Homo sapiens: one gene and its partners. The protein of the gene in region 3 interacts with the protein of the main gene of each other region in a biochemical or structural test. Each region holds a gene or a part of one and is shown on either strand. Other genes may lie near its edges.

What was found.
Region 1: the proteins of AURKA (region 3) and SOX30 form a complex in vitro, tested with the Homo sapiens proteins (one study listed by BioGRID).
Region 2: the proteins of AURKA (region 3) and NFXL1 form a complex in vitro, tested with the Homo sapiens proteins (one study listed by BioGRID).
Region 4: the proteins of AURKA (region 3) and PPP1CB form a complex in vitro, tested with the Homo sapiens proteins (one study listed by BioGRID).

Annotation. Positions count from the first base shown.
Region 1 is NC_000005.10:157,637,715-157,642,982, forward strand, and holds part of SOX30 (transcription factor SOX-30), read right to left. Parts: intron 1,009-5,268; coding exon 516-1,008; intron 1-515. UniProt on the Homo sapiens protein: Acts both as a transcriptional activator and a repressor. Binds to the DNA sequence 5'-ACAAT-3' and shows a preference for guanine residues surrounding this core motif. Binds to its own promoter and activates its own transcription.
Region 2 is NC_000004.12:47,885,860-47,891,127, reverse strand, and holds part of NFXL1 (NF-X1-type zinc finger protein NFXL1), read left to right. Parts: intron 1-424; coding exon 425-515; intron 516-5,128; coding exon 5,129-5,249; intron 5,250-5,268.
Region 3 is NC_000020.11:56,381,214-56,386,481, reverse strand, and holds part of AURKA (aurora kinase A), read left to right. Parts: coding exon 1-225; intron 226-2,157; coding exon 2,158-2,212; intron 2,213-3,305; coding exon 3,306-3,497; intron 3,498-4,910; coding exon 4,911-5,049; intron 5,050-5,268. UniProt on the Homo sapiens protein: Mitotic serine/threonine kinase that contributes to the regulation of cell cycle progression.
Region 4 is NC_000002.12:28,754,286-28,759,553, reverse strand, and holds part of PPP1CB (serine/threonine-protein phosphatase PP1-beta catalytic subunit), read right to left. Parts: intron 1-5,268. UniProt on the Homo sapiens protein: Protein phosphatase that associates with over 200 regulatory proteins to form highly specific holoenzymes which dephosphorylate hundreds of biological targets.

The DNA of each region.
Region 1 (5,268 bases), on a different chromosome or scaffold from region 3:
TTTTTTTTGAGATGGTCACCCAGGCTGCAGTGAAGTTGGTGTGATCTCAGCTCACTGCAACCTCCGCCTCCCAGGTTCAAGTGATTCCCCTGCTTCAGCCTCCTGAGTAGCTGGGATCACAGGCACGTGCCACCACGCCTGGCTAATTTTTGTATTTTTAGTAGAGACAGAGTTTTACCATGTTGACCAGGCTGGTCTCAAACTCCTGACCTCGAGTTACCCACCCACCTTGGCCTCCCAAAGTGCTGGAATTACAGGCATGAGCCACTGCCTGAAGCCTATATTCTTATGTAACAAGAGTCAGCTGGAGCTGAGTTAGAGCTGCACTCTCCCTAGCTACCCCAGTCCTCACCTGGCCCTCTCCATCTATTTATGTTAACTGCTTGGCTCCTAGTCAGCAGAATTGAAGAAGTCTGCTTTTCAGTATTTAAAAACAAATAAACAAAAAAATGTTGTCACAGGTAAAAACTCATTAGCTGAATGTTTAGGTAAAAGGAAAAAAAATGTTAATTTACCTTGATGGGAAGTAGTGAGGTCCGGGTAGGAAGTAAGGGTGATGAAAAGAGAATCTTGGTGGTGTCCCGAACAGTGTGGCTGGATGGCCAAGGGGAGGGGGCTGGTAGACATGTGGGTGTGGAATGGGAGAAGCCTGGGGGATTGGAGCACTTCTGGGACAAGGGGAAACGCTGGAATACTCCCTAGGAGGTTGGATGGTCGAAGTTGCAAATCTGGCATGGGCAGTACTTGCACTACTTGAAATCCTGTTGGCGCTCTCTAGAGAGACAGGAGTGGGTTGCTTCACAGTGTGAGTGGCTTCAGAATGCAGCTGATGAGTGTCTGTTTGGGAAGGCCCAGTAAAGCGTTGGGGTGGGAGTGCTGGATAGACAGGTAGACTTGGATCCTGGACAGCCACCTGAGCAGCACTGGAGACGCTGGGCTGGAAAAGTGTGACAGGGCTTGGGCTCTGGACTGCAGGTGTGGGCAGCTGGATAGCAGGTGAGGTTTCACCTTTAGAAATAAAAATAGCATAAATCAAGAATTAACTGAGTCATTCCATGTTTTTCTTCTTTCAGTAAAGTTTAATAAATTGTATAAGCAGAGGCCTTCATCAATCACCTTACCTAACTGCATCATCATATCAAACCACTCTATTTCATTTGCAGCATTTTGAACAAACTGAAGTTATCTTGTTTTCTTGTTCATTTACATTTTTTGTCTCTCTCTCTCAACTAGACTCTAAGTGCCATGAGAAGAGCAACGTTTTCTGTTTCGTTTGCTGCTGTATCCCCAGGGTGAAACATTCTGTCTGGGGCAGAAGAGGCCCTCAACAAATATTTTTTAGATGAATAAACAAATGAATAAAATTATTGATAGATATATTAAAAGACTGAAAACACATAAATGCTGGTATGCATATATACATTTAAAAATAATAATAATATGAAGCTATTGACACTAGTTACCTTTAAGGAGCCATGATCTAAGAGAGGGGACAGGGCAGTGGGGCAGGAGGAAAAGCCAGACTTTCGTTTTATACCTACTGGTACTATCTGAATGTTCTGTTTACCTAAATATATTAATCTTATTTTTAATATTACTAGGGGTTTCAGAGTAGCAGTATGGGTCATTTTTCTTTTCTTTTATAAACTTCTCTATATTAAACTAAATTATAAATGACATTTAATTTTTTTCGTTGAAAAAAACTTAAACAACAAAATTACTTCACTCTATTGTATTCAATATGAATACGAAAGGAAATTTCCAAGTGAGAACAGGACTTGCCACATGTCAACCACTGGTGACAGATACAAAAGGAATACTATTGCAGCAGAGCATGAAAGATATGGCAAAATTTTTAAAGGTAGGTGAAACAATTAATGTGTTTTAGCTTTCTGTTCTGAAGAAGACAGGACTACTGATTGAGCTGCTAAGTGACCCAAATGACACACCTGGTCTAAATTTAATTCAACTTTCCTGAAGAAATACAGATGGATGCCACAGCAAGAGAGTCATGATCTAACGTATTGCAATACAGTTTCGAATCCATTAATAAAGAAGATGCAGTCCAAGAAATTCTGCGGTTGGACATGTCTCTGTCATAGACTGAAAGAAATGTGGATCTTTTCCCAGCCTCATTCAGGTGACTTCCCTCTCCTTTCTTTTCTCCAGATAAAGCAGATAATGCCCCTCTTAAAGCAGGAAGTAGGGAATTAAGGGACATAGCCACCTGTCTGAAGATGGGCTCTGACCCAGTGAAGTAGAGAAACAGGATGTAATGATGCTGCCCTGATTTTCACCTGATGAGGTTATCTGGACTAGCCCCACTATCTGTGAGGCACAGGCCCTACTCAGGCCCTTCCTGATTTATCAAGCATAGGTTAATTTCCCTTGTCCACGTTCCCTCCAAACCTTGTAAACCTATCACCTATCATGAAATAGTGTAAATCTTTGTGATTATTTGCATGTCTGCCACCCCAACCATGATCACCAAACTGGGAGATTGAGAGCAGGAACTCTCAATTTCTATTCGTATCCCAGTATCTAGCCAGAACCTGGTTAATAAAAAATAGTTAAGAAAAGTATGAATGGATACAGCTTTATAAAAGTTCCAAAGCCTTTAAATGAATAGGAATACTCATATAAAAGGAGGATGCTGGCATAACTGGCATCAAAGACATGTAATCAAAGATCTGAAGAGAATTCCACACTACCATGCTATAAGCGAGACAGGGTAGTGGGGTGGCGGGGATCATCTCACCTTCACTCACGTATTTTTCCATACATGCGCACTGACCACCAGACCTTGCAGCACCACCCCCACTGACACCATACCCATTGACCAGACCTTGCAAGCTGTCTGAAAAAACTAAGATAAGCAGCATTCCACCACAAATCTTACTCAAGGGAATTAACTCTATCGCCTGCATGTGCACAAGGGCTGCATGTGAGAATGGCCTCCTGGCAAATTCTAGAATGACGATCTAGAATTAGAATGACGATCCTAACCCCTAGGATTGTAATATTAAAATCTCTAGGATTGAAATACTAAAATCTCCGCCCAGGGAGATTTTCTGATCATGATCAACATATGAGTTAGCATGATTCCTTACTTGTCTGCACACCCTGCACTCCACCTCGCATATGTAATGACACTCAGCTACCTCATGCATTATGCATATCACCCTCCTGAAGACACCATAATGCACTCCCTTGGAGAGCCAGCCAGAGAACCCTTTCTCCTGTGCTGTCTCTCTTAATACCCAATCTTTCCAGGCATAAGCCCTAACAACCCCTGTCTAGGAAAAGTTTGCCTGGCCTCTTGTTAATTTCTATTACACTGAGAGCCAAGAACTTTACGCCAGTAACATAAGCACTTTCAGAAACTAGAAACAGGGTGGGTGCCATGGCTCACATTTGTAATCCCAACACTTTGGAAGGCCAAGATGGGAGAATCACTTGAGTCCAGGAGTTTGAGACTAGACTGGGCAACCTAGCAAGATCCCATCTCTACAGAAAAAAAAAAAGAACTAGTAAGAGAAGAGGAGCTTGGGAGATAGTACTAAATGTGAGTGACAGAGTAAATAATGCACCAGACATAAAAATAATACCAGACAAGTGCTGGGCGTGGTGGCTTATGCCTGTAATCCCAGCACTTTGGGAGGCCGAGGCAGGTAGATCGACTGAGGTCAGAGGTTCAAAACCAGCCTGGCCAACATGGTAAAACCCCATCTCTACTAAAAATACAAAAATTAGCCGGGCTTGGTGGCATGCACCTGTAATCCCAGCTACTCTGGAGGCTGAGGCAGGAGAATTGCTTAAACCTGGTAGGTGGAGGTTGCAGTGAGCTGAGATCATGCCACTGCACTCCAACCTGGGTGACAGAGCAAGACTCTATCTCAAAAAATAATAATAATACCAGACAAGAAAGTAGATTCTATCAAAGAAATAGTAAAAGTAGTTATATTTATATCTATACTTGCTACGACTACCTAACGAACTCTTTGACAGCAGAGACTACAAAAAAACTTTATATGTTGTTCCTAGCAGAGTTTGCCCCATAATAGGATTTAAGAAACCTTAGTAGTGAAGGCGGCAGGTAAGCAGGCAAACAAATGTGCCACTGGAATTTACTCAGAAGATATCTGAGATAAAACTCACTGTTACAGGGGAGAATACCAGATTAAACTGCCAGATTTCGAATATATTTACTGAATATCTTAATGTGATAAAAGTGTACTGGGAAGATCTAGTACAGGACAAGTGATCGATTAGAACAAAAAGGTTTGGTAGAATACACAGTAAAATGAAATCAGCTTGAGGGCCGGGTGCAGTGGCTCATGCCTGTAATCCCTGCACTTCGGGAGGCTGAGACGGGCAGATTACTTGAGTCCAGGAGTTCAAGACCAGCCTGGCCAATGTTGCGAAACCCCGTCTCTACTAAAAATACAAAAATTAGCCAGGCGTGGTGGCGCTTGCCTGTAGTCCCAGCTATTCAGGAGGCTGAGGCAGGAGAATCGCTTGAACCTGGGAGGTGGAGGTTGCAGGGAACCAAGATCACGCCACTGCACTCCAGCCTGGGAGACAGAGTAAGATTCCCTCTCAAAAAAAAAAAAAAAGAAGAAGCTTGATTGAGAGCCAAATAATGGAGAAATATTACTAGAAAATCCATGAATTCAGTGTGTGAAATATTATGCGGTAGTAATCACAACATATTTAAATTTATGATCCTGGCTAAAGAGAAAGTCAAAAAAATCTACGCTGGGGTTATTCAATTTTTGGAATATTGATATTGGCTAGGGAAAAAGGCTGATAGAGATTAAAATAAAAAGTTCATAGAAAAATGGAGATTATTTTACATGACAATGCTAAAAACACAAAAGAAAGAAATGTGCCTCAAAGTCACAGTTACTATGGCTAACTGGCAAAAAAATAAATAAATAAAAAATAACAAAAATAACAACAACAACAACAACAAAACCTTCAAAAGCTTGTCCAAATGTACAAATGAGCCCAACTGCGGTGAGGCAAATGCAAAAAAACTAGGCAGTCCAAAGGAAAATTGAAGGAGCCACACCTGAGAGACCTCAAAGTCAATACTAATTGACTCCAAATATTTTTACAAAAAGGAGAGAATCGGTGGAATTATTTAGTCATTACGGTATAAACAGCAACTGACAGAGAACAGAGAGACTCAATAAATTCCTTTCTCCTAAAGAAGACCTTAAGATTTCTGAACCCTAATTTTCAAAGTAAATAGGTTAAAAATAT
Region 2 (5,268 bases), on a different chromosome or scaffold from region 3:
AAAAAAAAAAAAAGAAAAAAAGAAAAAGAAAATAAATAACTGCCAAATGAATCTATACGTTGAATTTGATTTTAATTAAATTTTTTTTAAAAACCAGACTAATTGTTTTCCTGAATTGACATTCCTTTGGTTAATGTTGTTAGTCTCTGCATAGATAAAGGAATGAAATTATCTGATGGAAATGTTTTGAATCATAGAATAATTAACTGAAAGTCAGGAAAATTTAGCTTGATTTGTTAAATTAGGTCATCATAAGTTCTTAGTGAAGTATGTTTACTTACCAGAAGAATGTTGATATTCTTGAATACTTCTTTTAGTGAAAAGTGTATCTTTTGCTTTCCATAAGTTCTGTAACTAGTAATGACATGCCTATTATTCATGGGTTTTTGAATTACCTGTTCTTTATATATTGCTTTCTCTTCAGTGTTGCCCTGGAAACTGTCCACCTTGTGATCAAAACTGTGGACGGACTTTAGGATGTAGAAACCATAAGTGTCCATCTGTCTGTCACAGAGGTAAACTTTAATAATAGCTATGATTTTATGTTTGTAGTGATGTAGTGGTTTTTTTTTTCATTGTCAATATTCAATATAATGTATTGAAATAGCGTTTTATAGTCATTATCTCACTTGACTCTCTTAACCTGGAGAAGAAGGTAAGGCAGTTTGCCAGTGTCTCTATTTTATAGGCAAAGAGGTTGAAGCTTAAGAGGGTTCAGTAACTTACTCAGGGAAATGTCTAGTACATTTGAACCCAGGATTTCTGTATATAAAAGTATTGTCCTTTCTATAACACCATATTGTTTTCCCACTTCCTGACTTTCCCCACATAATTTTTTAATCAATGAAGGTGTTCATAGCATTTTGAACACCTTATTTATTCTGAATTTTATATACTTATTTGTAGTTAAATCTAGTAAAGGATTAGATATGTCCGAAGCTGGTGATTTTTAAACATTTTGATGTCATGACCCCTTTACAATCCTTTGGTCCCCAAAGGGCTTTTGTTAATGTGAGTTTTATTCATTGACATTTATTGTATTTGAAATTAAAATAAAATGTAATAATATTTATTATTTTTTAAAAATAGCAGTAATAAACCCATTATATCTTAATACAAATAATGTTTTATGAAAAATAACTATTTTCTGAAAAAAGTAGAAAATTTTACATTTTTACAAATGTCTTTAATGTCTAGCTTAACAGAAAATAGCCGGATTCACATATATGCTTCTGTATTCAGTCTGCTATGGACATCACTTTTCACTAGCTTCTGGAAAACTATGCATGTGAGACCTTGCAGACCTCCTGAAAGGGTCTCAAGAACCACTAGGGTTCCTGGACTATACTTTGAGAATTATGTTATAAGTTATTACTAGACATTAAAAACTGAGTTAACTTCACTCATTTGGATTATGTTGATATGAAATGGAATCTACTGAGATATGGTATACAGTATTGGAAAGATCGTGGACTTAGAGTAAGAAATCCTGGATTTAAGCCTAGACTCTGCCATTTAGTAGTTTAATACCTAGAACAAACTACTGAACTGTTTCTCAGTTGATCTCCCTATCCTTTCAGAAATCCTGCAGCATATAGGGATATGTGGAACAGGCCGGGAGACTATTGGCCCAAGGTTAATAGAACTAGTCGCAGAGTCAGGATGTGAACCCAGTGTTTATGTTATTTCCATTATACTACATTCCTTCCCCATTAGGAAAAGTGTCAGATTCTATTTACCCTGTAGACATTTCCTGTAGGTGTTCTTTGATTTGTCAGTGAAGTTTAGAAATAGTTTTTCAGGTATGCTCTCACCAACACTAGAAAGATTTTATTTTCTTTTATAGTCATTACATCACTGACCCATTGAGTTTTTGCAGATTTTTGCAAACTACATCTCTGTGATATAACTGGTTTAACAGTAGTAAATCTAATATTATGTAATTTACCACATTAAAAGACCAAAGGAGGAATGAGATCATCTTGATAAATGTCTAACATCTATATAAGATAAAAATTTAATTGGAAATAGACATATCCTTAACCTGATAAAGAGTATCTGCAAAAAGTTTAGAGCAAATATCATACTTACTGGAGAAGTGTTGGAAGCATTTCCCTGTCTCATATTTTTGTGAAGCAAAGCCCATAAATATTTCAGTATTTGTCTCTAAAAGATGGATTCTTAACCTAAATGTAGTTAACATATTTCTTCATATCAGCAAACATCTGGTTTTCAAATTTCTTGTTGTCTCATAAGTAACTTCATTTTTTACATCAGTTTATAGACTCAAAAACCTAATAAAATTGACATGTTGTAATTGGTTTTGTCTCTAAAGTCTTTTAATTTATAATTTCCATCCTCTATCTCCTTTTTTCCCCTTATGACTTATTTGTTGAAGAAACTAGGTTGCTTTATTTAGTTTCTCAGAGTCTGAGTTTTGCAGATTGCATCTCTGTGGTATTATTTAACATGTTCCTCTGTCCTCTATATTTTTGATAACCTGTTAATTGGATCTAGAGGTTTGATCAGATTCAGGTTTTGATATTTTTTGGTAGAGTGGTGTTTTTTTGTTTGTTTTGTTTTTATAGATTTCTATTAATCCTTAGAAAAGCTTATTAGTCACAACAAAATTTTCCTTGATGTAAAGTATGTGGAAGATGCTGTTGTGCAACTGTCAATATTTGTTTCATCTACAGTTATAAAAGAATGTGGAATCATAATTTCATACCATTTTTCCATCATTCTAGAATCCTTCATAATCAGAATTATACAGTAATTTATAGGGGGAATATACTAACTGCATGTTTGTGTTGTGGGTATGTGAAAATTTGATTTATAGTTTTGTTTTGTTCTTTGAGACGGAGTCTCTCTCTGTCACCAGGCTGGAGTGCAGTGGCGCAATCCCGGCTCACTGCAACCTCTGACTCCCCATTTCAGGTGATTCTCCTGCCTCAGCCTCCCGAGCAGCTGGCATCACAGGCATATGCCACCATGTCCAGCTAATTTTTGTATTTTTAGTAGAGCCGGGGTTTCACCATGTTGGCTAGGATGGTCTCGATCTCCTGACCTCGTGATCTGCCTGCTTCGGCCTCCCAAAGTGCTGGGATTACAGGCATGAGCCACAGCGCCCAGCCGATTTATAGTTTTTTTTTTTAAATTCAGGATCATCTGTGTTTATAGTTTTAGAACTACCCGAATCATGCCTATTTTGGCTATTAACTGGTATTGGTCAGTATAGTTATAGTCTCCCTATGCTATTTCTTCATTTTGAAAGTATTATGGAAGCTCTTTTAATTATAATAAATTCTGTTGGTCAGTAGGGAGACTGTTTAGAGAAATTGTCCCTTATTTTCAAGATGTAATTTAAATGTGATACTGTTGTTTAGAATAACAAAAAGGTTACGTTTGATAACAAAAAGGTTCCTCTGCTGAAGATGAATGAAAAATTGTCATTGTTAAGTATAGAAACAGATATAATATGCCGAATGAGAACCGACTTAAATATCACTATCAACTTTAAAAATACAACTTGTAGTCATTCTTTAGGTAAAATAAAAATAAAACTTGATATGTGGGTTAGGATAACTTGACTTGCATTAACATCAAGAATATATGTGTCAAAACACATTTGGTGTTTTGTATAATAAATGTTATGTTTGACCCTACGATGTTTTACCTCTAATCTTCTCTTTTTCTGTGTTCATTATTTGAATTATAATTCTTAATTTGTGTTTGTTTTAGGGAACTATTTTGAACTTCTAGAGGCACTTAAGCCAGGATATTGTCCATCTTTAATCTTTTTTTTATCAGGTTAACTCCCGGTCCATGTTTTGCTTGGTCCTGACACCTAGGCAACAGTCTCTTTAAGATATTCATTTCTTCATTGAAAACTCTTCTTCCTTTATTATTTCATTTCTGATAGAGTTCCTTACTGGGAAAACTAGAGTGGAAGAAAGCCCTTAAGATGATGACAGAACCTCTTGGAGCGAACTTTATAGCCTGCTTTAAAGATTTCTTTGATTTTGTTTTTTTATATTTTTGCCAACCCATAACAAAAGAGCGTAAAAAGCTGAAACCAAAATAACATTTTTTTTTATGTTTAGAAGAGAAATATTTGGGATTATATCCTAAAATGGTGGCTTAGTACTTAGTCTTTCACAAAGCACAATTAATGGAAAATTGACTGTGCTTGCTACTAACCAATATCAGGTCATGAGAAAGAAGTTATTGGGAATTCATCTAAAAATTGTGTACTTGGATAGATGTATGAAAGTAGGCCAACGATATTATTGTTAATGTTAAATTTTCCAAAGACTTAAATCCATTTTTGCTTGTTTTAGTTTTGAATGAGTAATGTGTTAAATTTGTTATTTAGAACAGAAGTTTTAGCACATTTTAGAGAAATGTCTAAAACTTTATGAGGTACCAGTGTACAGAGAAAAAAGTGTTATAAATCAGAGGCTGGGTGCAGTGGCTCACGCCTGTACACCCAGCATTTGGGAAGCTGAGGTGGGAAGATTGCTTGAGTCCAGGAGTTTGAGACCAGCCTGGATGACATAGTGAGACCCCTCCATCTCTATAAATAATCAAAAATTAGCTGGGCATGGTGGTGTGTGTCTGTAGTCCCAGCTACTTGGAAGGCTGACGTGGGAGGATTGCTTGAGCCCAGAAAGTTGAGGCTGCACTGAGCTGTGATCATGCAACAGCACTCAGCTTGAGCAACAGGTTGAGACCCTGTTACAAAAAAAAAAAGAGAAAAGTATTACAAATAAAAAGTATACAGCTTGTTGAATTTTTACAAACTGAACATAGCCAGGTAACCAAAACTTACATCATTAAACAGAACATGACCAAAATTTTCAACACCTTCCTTGCATCCTTCATAGCTATCACTCTGATTTTGAACAGTACATTTTTTCTTGTTTACTTTATATAAATGGAATCATGCACTATGTACTCCTTGTGTCTGGCTCAATGTTTTGTGGTAAGATTCATTCATGTTGTTGTAGTTTCTTCATTCTTGTTGTAGAGTATCCCATTGTGTGAATATACTAAATTTATGTATTTTACCATTAATAGGCATTTGGGTAGTTAAGGAAACTTTTTAATTGTCAGACTTTTTTTTCAGGCAGTTGCTATCCCTGCCCAGAAACCGTAGATGTGAAGTGTAATTGTGGCAATACAAAGGTGACAGTGCCCTGTGGCCGAGAACGTACCACAAGACCACCCAAGTGCAAGGAGCAATGCAGGTGAGTTTGAAGCTTTGCA
Region 3 (5,268 bases):
CTTGTCAGAATCCATTACCTGTAAATAGTGGCCAGGCTCAGCGGGTCTTGTGTCCTTCAAATTCTTCCCAGCGCATTCCTTTGCAAGCACAAAAGCTTGTCTCCAGTCACAAGCCGGTTCAGAATCAGAAGCAGAAGCAATTGCAGGCAACCAGTGTACCTCATCCTGTCTCCAGGCCACTGAATAACACCCAAAAGAGCAAGCAGCCCCTGCCATCGGCACCTGGTAAACTAGCTTTTGAGACTCATTGGATAGTCCTTCTTTGTCGTCGTTGCTAAAAAAGCCAGTGTATATACTTGCACTTATTGTTTGGAGCCTTAGCTTTTATATCTGTTGAGGATGGGGAGAAAATATGGTGTCTGGGTTGAAGTAACAGTGTCTGCCCATGGGCCAGACCTATGCTAAAAATACAGACCTGATTCTCACCCTCTTGGAAGAGTTGGGCACCCAGGGAGGACACAGCATAAATTGGTGTCCTTTTGATTGCTTGTTACTGAGTCTGGATGTAGGGTGCTTGCAGTAAGTGACTTGAAGGGACTGAGATCTAAAGTGTGGGGGAAATCCAGAGAAGTGGGTGAACTGAGGCAGGCTGCGGTGAGGTCACCATGGGCATTGCTGGCCATGTTAAGGAATGGGGCCTCATCTCTAGGGCATTTGGAAGCTACTGAAGCTTTTTTGAACTCAGAAGGGAACTCTGCCTTTTAGAAAGTTTACTGTGGAAGGCCAGGCGCAGTGGCTCACGCCTGTAATCCCAGCGCTTTGGGAGACCGAGGCAGGTGGATCACCTGAGGTCAGGAGTTGGAGACCAGTCTGACCAACATGGAGAAACCCTGTCTCTACTAAAAATACAAAATTAGCCAGGCGTGGTGGTGCACGCCTGTAATCCCAGCTACTCAGGAGGCTGAGGCAGGAGAATGGCTTGAACCCAGGAGGTGGAGGTTGTGGTGAGCCGAGATTGTGCCATTGCATTCTAGCCTGGGCAACAAGAGCAAAATTCTATCTCAAAAAAAAAAAAAAAATTTACTGTGGAAGTACTGAATAAATTGGAGTAGAACGCTGGATTTAGGAGTACCAGACAGGAAGGAGGTTGAGGTCAGAGATGGCAATAACCTGCTCTGTGTGGAGCAGAGTGGATGCAATTATTTACCAACTGTTGAGTGCTCATTCCCTGCAGGCTCTGAGATAAGTGCGTGCTTCATCCACGTCATCTCTTTCAATCTTCGTAACCACTTCATGAAGGTAGCCAGTTATTAACTCAGTTTTACAGAGGAGGAAGCTAAGACTCAGAAGCAGTTAACTTATCCAAAGACAAGCCAGGATGGAGAGGTGCACACAAATTTGAGAGCTCATTTACGATGCAGACTCATTAGAACTGGGCAATAAATTGTACCTGAAAGATGAATAAAGAGGAGTTAGGGATGGTGATTAGATTGATATTAATTGAGTGAGTGTCCTGGGGGTTGAGGGGTGCACATGTGACAGGGGCATCTGGAGGAAGAGTTTGGACCAGCATCCAGATATCTGAGCAGAGCATTGTGTGCTGTTCGAGTTTGCTATGTTGGAGACAGACCAGTGGAAATGTTTCATATGTCCTTGTGGCTGATGAAATAGTTACCCCAGTCCTCTGCTGCACAACTGTTCATTGTGCATTTTGCTGAATTGGTGGCTTTTATTTTTATATTTCCCCTTGGCAGCTAATATAAATGGAGGGTGGCTGGCTTATGTTTTGCTACATGTTGGTGATAATTCGTATGTAGGGTATGGACTGTTGGCTGGCCCACCTAGTAAGGGGAAAAAGGTGACGAGTTGGCAGCTCGTCATGCATGGGAAGATTGGTACTTCTGCCACAAAAGCTCTTCTTTGGAAACTGAGGCTTCAGAAGAGCCTGCATAGTCTGCCTTTAATTTATCAGAGAAGGGCCTGTCTATATATACGTCTGCTCATCTTTAGAAATTCTATAAAGGCTTCACATGATGGAAGTCAGGGTGTAGTAGTCCTTTTTTTCTATAAGGAAAACTTTAAAAAAAAAAAACAGATTTATCATTCTTGACATACCATTAATATTTTGGTGACCAATTCTTTGATTCACCTCTATTCACAGCTTAGCTTATCCTATATAGTTATTCTAAAAACAGGTTTTTAACTTATTCCATATAGAAAATAATCCTGAGGAGGAACTGGCATCAAAACAGAAAAATGAAGAATCAAAAAAGTAAGCTTTCTTATTTACAAAGTTCTGTACTGTTCTACTAGAATATATTATTTCGTTGCAAATTTCGTTGTGGGAACTCTGGGGAAAAAAATGAGGCCTTTATTTGCATTTAGAGGATATAAATGTTTCCAGATTTCCAATCTTAAAAAAAATGGAATTTTGTGTAATGAGGTATTTTACTAGGAACTCAAGTGCTTTAAAAAATGGCTTTCAAATTTAGAAAAAGCTTGTATGAATCTTTTATAGAAATGTGTGGAAGTTCCTCTCTGTCCTTAGAAATAACCACTACATATGGTTTATGCGTCTGTACTTTTTTATTGTACAAAAGTGCAAGTTTTTAAAAAATAGAATATGTTGCAGAACTATATACTCATATATGACTGAGGGTTTTGACAGTATTATAGTTTTAGTTCTTTATTGTAAAGGTTGGCTGTAATGTCTTCCCCAGGGCTTTTCTAAAAGCCTCCTCTCAGTCTCTGAACTATCTGGACTCTAGAATGTACCGGGAGGAGCGAGGAATGAACCCACAGACTCTTTTGCTTTTAGCGGTCTAACAGAGGCTAAGAGTCTAAATCCACTGGTTCTCATGCCCCAGCTAGCCTGTGGGCTCCATCCCGCTTCCATTAGTAACAGTGGCTCTGTCTCCACCACCAGAGTGGTTCTCCACCCAGAGAGAATTAGCACCTCTGGGACTGGAGGGAGCAGCTGGGGTTAGTTTGAAACATGCCCCCAGATGGTCTGGAAGCATTCCTCCCTCTCTGGTCACTTATCCTTTTTGTGGTCTTCAGCGTTGTCATGGCCCTGTTCCTCTGAGCATAGTACGGGCTTGGGACATTTCCCATAGAGTGCTTCAGGTCTAAAACCCGAGACTGCTCCTTGTCACTGACTCTCACACCTGACGGCAGCTAGGGACGTCAGGGTTTCATGTCGTGGCAGCTCTTTGATAGTGGTTATTGCCTTGGTTCTTGCTGAGGATGCATATTGAGTGAAGTTGGAATACGAAATTATTTGTAGAATGTGTCTGCTACTCATTGAAAATTTGTTAGAAAAGCTTTGTTTTCTTCACATTCTAAAGTGTTCAAATTCCTCCTAGGAGGCAGTGGGCTTTGGAAGACTTTGAAATTGGTCGCCCTCTGGGTAAAGGAAAGTTTGGTAATGTTTATTTGGCAAGAGAAAAGCAAAGCAAGTTTATTCTGGCTCTTAAAGTGTTATTTAAAGCTCAGCTGGAGAAAGCCGGAGTGGAGCATCAGCTCAGAAGAGAAGTAGAAATACAGTCCCACCTTCGGTGAGTTTTCAGGTTCATGTTCAAAAGAATGTTCACCAATGCTGCACCCCTCCCCCTCCTGTAATGTCAGCCTCCCACTGCCCAGGTCCCTTCACTCCCTCTTACGAGGCACTGCCTTCAAATGCATGGCCCCGTTCCTCACCTCCCCCTCCCCTATGAAAAAGATTAGATAAGCTTCTGTACTGCACTGGGTTATAAGCATTCTCCTGTGATTCTCCCATGCTCTGCATGTTAAAATAAAATTGTATTCCTTTTTTTTTTTTTAAGTATAAATTTATTTTTTAGAGGGCCTGCTTTTCATAGTACCACAAAAAATGATTAAATTTGTCATCTTTCAAAGAGCACTTAAGTGCTCTGATCCTGGAAAAATCACTTGAGGATTTAATGTTTTGTTAATAGAATAGTTTATATGGGCAAGTCTTTCTGGTGGACAGTGAAGGGGAATGGCACCCCTTATTCTGAGGTATGCAGGAATTGCGAGCAGCTACCTGCAGGTTGACTACGGCTGGTGGGTTTTTGTTTTTCCTTTTTTTCTTTCAGTGTTTTTCAAATTTGAATCAGATGCTAATACTTCAAGTCTGGCCACATCAGGCCTGGTGTGTCTCTGCCTGGCAACACCTGGCTGGGGCTGGGAGGGGCAGGCATCTCACATGGGCTGTGCTTCCCATTGCCTGCTTCCCGCTGGCCACAGTCTGCACCTGCCCAGTCTGCTCAGCACCCATCTACTGCCATTACTGATCACTGCTTTTATCTGTCACAGTGTCTGGGTGTCAAACTACTGTGGCAATGCCATGTCCTTTTTTTTTTTCCTTTTTTTTTTTGAGATGGAGTCTCGCTCTGTTGCCCAGACTGGAGTGCAGTGGCGCAATCTCAGCTCACTGCAACCTCTGCCTCCCAGGTTAAAGCGATTCTCCTGCCTCAGCCTCCTGAGTAGCTAGGATTGCAGGCATGCACCAACAAGCCTAGCTAATTTTTGTATTTTTAGTAGAGACGAGGTTTCACCATGTTGGCCAGGCTGGTCTTGAACTCCTGACCTCGCGATCCTCCCGCCTCGGCCTCCCAAAGTGCTGGGATTACAGGCGTGAGCCACTGTGCCCGGCCATGTCCTTTTTTTAATATGTAGATAATTAATATTCAGCTGAATTTTCCTCCTAAGAATAAAGGTGCCTAAAGGAAGGAAATAGTCTTAACTAAACCAGAGGTCCATTAATACTGTGAAGTGCTTTTAAAATGATATGTGGGTGTATGTATTTTTCTTGGAGTGGGTTTATAGTTTCAGATTCTAAAGTGGGGTTTGGAGTGTGGTTTCATGTGAAACACCACTGGTTTTACATGAAGAGTTTGTTTGACATTTTGTACATAGTCTTCTGTGAGCTCCAAACCAAGTGTTAGAATGTTTATCCTTTGTTGCAGGCATCCTAATATTCTTAGACTGTATGGTTATTTCCATGATGCTACCAGAGTCTACCTAATTCTGGAATATGCACCACTTGGAACAGTTTATAGAGAACTTCAGAAACTTTCAAAGTTTGATGAGCAGAGAACTGCTACTGTAAGTGTTCATTTATTGTCCAGGCTAATTGTGTTTCCTTTATACCTGTCCTCCATAGCAATGTACCTTTCATCATAGTAGAGTGGGTTTTGTCTTGACGTAAGGATAGCTTAATATCAAATATTTGAAGTGGAAAAATCAAAATAGCTTAGTTGTACCATATGTACAGATAAAGTCTAGAACCAGGTAGAATGTTGTATCTGCTTTTGTGCCTAGTTT
Region 4 (5,268 bases), on a different chromosome or scaffold from region 3:
GTTATACTTTTTTTTTTTTTTTTTTTTTTTTTTGGAGATGCAGTCTCACTCTTTCGCCCAGGCTGGAGAGCAGTGGTGCAATCTTTGCTCACTGCAACCTCCACCTCCCAGGTTCAAGTGATTCTCCTGCCTCAGCCTCCTGAGTAACTGGGATTACAGGCATATGCATGCCACCAAGCCCAGCTAATTTTTGTATTTTTAGTAGAGATGGGGTTTCACCATGTTGGCCAGGCTGGTCTCGAACTCCTGACCTCAAGTGGTCCACCTGCCTTGGCCTCCCAAAGTGCTGGGACTACAGGCATGAGCCACCACGCGTGGCCTGTTGTACTTTTACACAACTGGCAGTGCAATAGGTTTACACCAGCACTACCACAAACAAGAGTAATGCATTGCACTATGACATTATGCCTATGATGTCACTAAGTGACAGGAATTTCTCAGTTCCATTCTAATCTTACAGGACCACTAACTACCTTACATGAAGTCCACTGTTGACCAAAACATCATTTGACAGAACATATGACTATACTCAAACCAAGAAAGTGTTTTGGTCACCTTGCAACTGACCAGATGGGAACTTCTGTTACTTAGGGATATTCTGATTAACATTCTTAGAATAAAATTCCTTTATGGTGAAATATGCTATGTTAAAACCTCCCAATTATGCAAGGGTGGGCATGCATCAAAAAGCAAACGCTATTCCCTCTGGGATATGCACATATCATCAATATCTCCACTTGTCTTTGCACAGATGCAGGTAAATTTGGCAAGGGAGGGTTCTGAGGCCAGTGATGTTCACGAAGGTTATACATACTCTCACAAATCACTGTGCTCCACATGTGAATAGTGCAGAGGCAGAATAAAGGACAACTGCCCCCGCCCTTTTTCCTACTGTATGACAAGTACCCATCTAGACCAAGGACTGACTTCCTCTATCAAATCAGGAAAAAACTGGCTACTGGTTATTTATACTTGAATAAGCCTTGAAATGGCTATTTAAAGCTGCTAGAAGCAGTGGCTGCTGCCTAAGGGTATCAATCTGTATCCAATCACAAATCCTAGAAGACTCCACTGGGAATCCCCATCTACCACACCACTGCTAAACCTACTGACATTTACAAACTATTTCTTCCCCTTGCCTCCCTATATGCCACCAACATTCGAGAATAACCTTTCAGAAATACATAACAGAATTTAAGTCAGTATTTCTAAGAATCTTAACATTCCTTCATACCTGTATTACTTTACCTGTTAGAAATGTTTGAAAATGGGGCTGGGTGCCTGTAATCCCAGAACTCTGAGACTGGCCTGGGCAACAAAGTAAGATTCTGTGTCTACCAATTTTTTTTAATTAGTGGTGCATGCCTGTGGTCCCAGCTACTTGTGAGGCTGAGGTAGAAGGATCACTTGAGCCCAGAAGGTTGAGGCTGCAGGTGAGCCATGTTCATGCCACTGCACTCCAACCGGGTGACAGAGCCAGACCCTGCCTCCAAAAAAAAAAAAAATTAATTAAAAAAAATTAAAAATGCATGGCATTGGAATGTATACTCTTTTAAAAGTAATAAACGTGGAGAATAAGGAAGAAAAAGACCTACTAGATGCAACTATCTTCCCCACTAATCCTGACTCTTAATGTGGCTTTGTCTCTAGACTCAATTTAAATAATGTATTAAATCCCAACGAATCTTCATCTTGGATTTAGATATTTACCAGAAAAGCTCCAGGTCTGCATTCAGATAGCAAAATAAAAACACCTCTGGGCTACTTCTTCAAACTGTCAGTTTCCCTTACTTGCTGAACTTAATTCAGAGAAAACAAACACCTAATCTCTGAATCAGTTAAAAAATATGCCACGACCTTATGTCTCCTCTAGTATCTCATCCAGAAGAATCAAGGAGATAAAATATTCCTCGGGTGATCTCCCCCACTCCCCAACATGCTCTTTTTTCTAACAAGTCTAGCTGCACATCCACACAAAACACCTTCCCTACAGAAGTGGAGGTTGTCGGCAACAACTGACACTTCTTTCCAACCACCTAACCTTTAGGTTGCTGGGTCAGAATTAAACAATTTAATCAGTAAAGAGGCCTTAAACAACCTGGCAGCTCATCAAAAAGTTAAACATAGGGCTACCATATGACCTAGAAATCTCACTCCCAGCTATATACCCAACGGAATTGAAAGTATATGCCCACAAAAAAAAACTTCTACACAAATGTTGATAGCAGCACTACAAGTATTCACAATAGCCGAAAGAAAACAAAATGTCCATCAACTGATGAATGAATTAAAAATGTGGTGTATACATACAATGGAATATTATTCAGCCATAAAAGGAATAAAGTACTGATACATACTACAACAAAGATGAATGTTAAAAACATTAAAAGAAACCAGTCACAAAAGACAACATATTGTATGATTTCACTTGCATGAAACGTCCAGAATAGGCAAATCTAAGAGACAAAAAAAAGTAGATTAGTGGGGGCCGGGAGGGAATGGAGAGAAATGGGGTGTCTGCTACCGGGAACAGGGTTTTTTGGGGGGTATATGTGTTTGAAAATATTATACAGTTCACTGTGGTGATGGCTGCACAACTCTATAGTATACTAAAAATCATATCCTCTAAATAGGCAAACTGTATGGTATGTGAATTATATCTGGATAAAGCTGTCATTTTAAAATGGAGGGCTTTAATATGCTTTCATTAATCGATTTCATTTTTCAAATCCATTCATTTTTTTTAACCTTCAAAAGGACACTACAGGCTGGGCGCAGCACCTCGCACCTGTAATCCCAACACTTTGGGAAGCCAAGGCTGGAGGATTGCTTGAGCACAAGGGTTCAAGACCAGACTGGGCAACCAACATAGGGAGACCCCGTCTCTACCAAAATAAAAAAAATTAGCCAGCCAAGGTGTCATGTGCCTGTGGTCCCATCCACTAGGGAGGTTGAGGCAGAAGGATCGATTGAGACCAGGAAGTCGAGGCTGCAGTGAGCCATGATCAAGCCACTGCATTCCAGCCTGTCTTGAATAGGAAAAGTTAAAAGTGTAGTCTGTCAGCCTAACTAAATCTTAAGAGTACTATACCTGTTTCACAAGAAAGAAAAGGGAGATACGCACTAAGAGATCACAAGCAGTGTCACAAATTCAGACATCTGACAGGTCAAAGTTAAATGAAAAATGAATTTAAAAAACAAAACAGGTACAAACACATCCCACGATTTTCATAAAACTGTAAGTGGGCCAAAAATGTAACACAATCACATTTTGCTATGGAACTTTACACAGTGCTAATATTCTACAACTCATATTGTAATAGTCAAGTTCAGCTTCGTGGTAATATGTTAAAAAATACTTTAAGAAAAACTTTTCTATCACACAGCAAATCGCTTTTCGGTATTTTTGAAGACATTTCAATGACAAGGGAAAATGTTCATGATGTAATACTACATGAAAAATTAACTCATAAAGCTATGTAAAGAATATTCTAATGATGTAAAGCATGTGAATTTTACAAAGTATGTTAAGTATCTTTAAACAAAAATATATCAAAATTTCAACAACGGTTATCTCTGGATTGTGGAATTACAGGGGACTTCTTGAAAGAATGCTGCCCTTTCATAATCAGGAAAAAGCAAATTCTAAACAGTTTCATATTATCACATATATGACACATAATAGACATACTATATCAACTGGCACATCCCAGTTTTTAAATACCTGGATCAAGACTGTGGTTGGGAACAGAGCTGGCACTCTTATTCACCCAGCAGCAGTTTTCCATACTAACCTCCTCCCAAATGCATTAGATTCTACTCATTCCACTTCACTTCCTCCAAAATAAACTTAGCACTTATAGTTTGAATGAAGTTCCCCAGATGATTCTGCTATACTCCCATTTCCCACCCCTCTTTGAGAACCACTCATCTAAGTAAGAAGCTTTTACCGGATTTTCCAGAATACTCATACAAACTAGCTTCAATTTAAATGATCAAAACACTATGGTAAGCCACAAGAATGTGGCCAACAGGGTCACTACAGGGGATAAAGTAGAAGTCTTTGGTTTTTAGTTCTAAGCAAAAGTTAATCCAAGAAAACATACCGAAAGAATATGCACCGTCCAAATAATAAAATCAATATTTCTGTTTTACATTAAATGGCATGTTTGTATTAAAATGACCTAAAGGACTCTTTGAAAATATCATATCAAGGTCAGGCGCGGTGGCACATGCCTGTAATCCCAGCACTTTGGGAGGCCGAGGCGGGTGGATCACTTGAGGATGGAAAGTTCGAGACCAGCCAGGCCAACATGGTGAAACTACTAAAAATACAAAATTAGCCGGGGCGTGGTGGCATGCTGTAGTCCCAGCTACTTGGGAAGCTGAGGCAGAATAATCGCTTGGACCTGCAGGGGCAGAGGTTGCAGTGAGCCAACATCACCCCACCGCACTCCAGCCTGGGTGACAAGCGCAAAACTCCGTCTCAAAAAAACAAAAAACAAAAAAAACTTATCAATAATACGCCCACCTAAAAAAGAAAAACAAAAAGCAACTCATAAAATGTAGTCACCAGAAGTGTGTATAGCTGATCTGCGATTTAATACAGTAAAAAAGAAAAAACAATCAGGAATATGTTGTGGGGCTACAATCAGCATTTTAAAATGAGATCAGGTCCTGCTGAATGTTTTCCCCTAATGCAGAGAAATTCTTGCCAAATTTTTACTTACACGTTCATTTGACACTAAAAACACTAACCATAGTTATTCTTGCTAGGCAGCTTTACAAAATATCACTAACTAGCATCTAATATCACTGAAAATCCAGGTGGACAAAATTTTCTTTGAAGATTAAAAATAATTATTTACTAGAAAATTCAAGTCTGCTCTGGACAAGTCTTTCAACAGGTCTGGATCTGGGAAGGAGCTGAAAAACCTAGAATATTTAAGAATCCCTTGGGGGCACTGTCAAACTAAATATGCTTCTGTAGGATGAAGAAGTACTGATAGAATGTGTGCTGAACATAGGACAGAGAGGAGGCTGAAAAAGCCTGAAAGACACTTGTTTAGACTGGGAGCTCCTTGAGTGAAGAGACTGTGTCTTATCTTAGGATTGCTGGTGCCTGGCAAGGAGGAGGTCAACTTGTTAACGCTTGCTAAATTAAGAGAGAAACGTATCTGGACTACAATTCTTACCCGCCCCCCCCCCGCCCCCCCAAAAAAGGAAAACAGATTGTACAAACCAAATATTTAATTTGAATTCACAAAA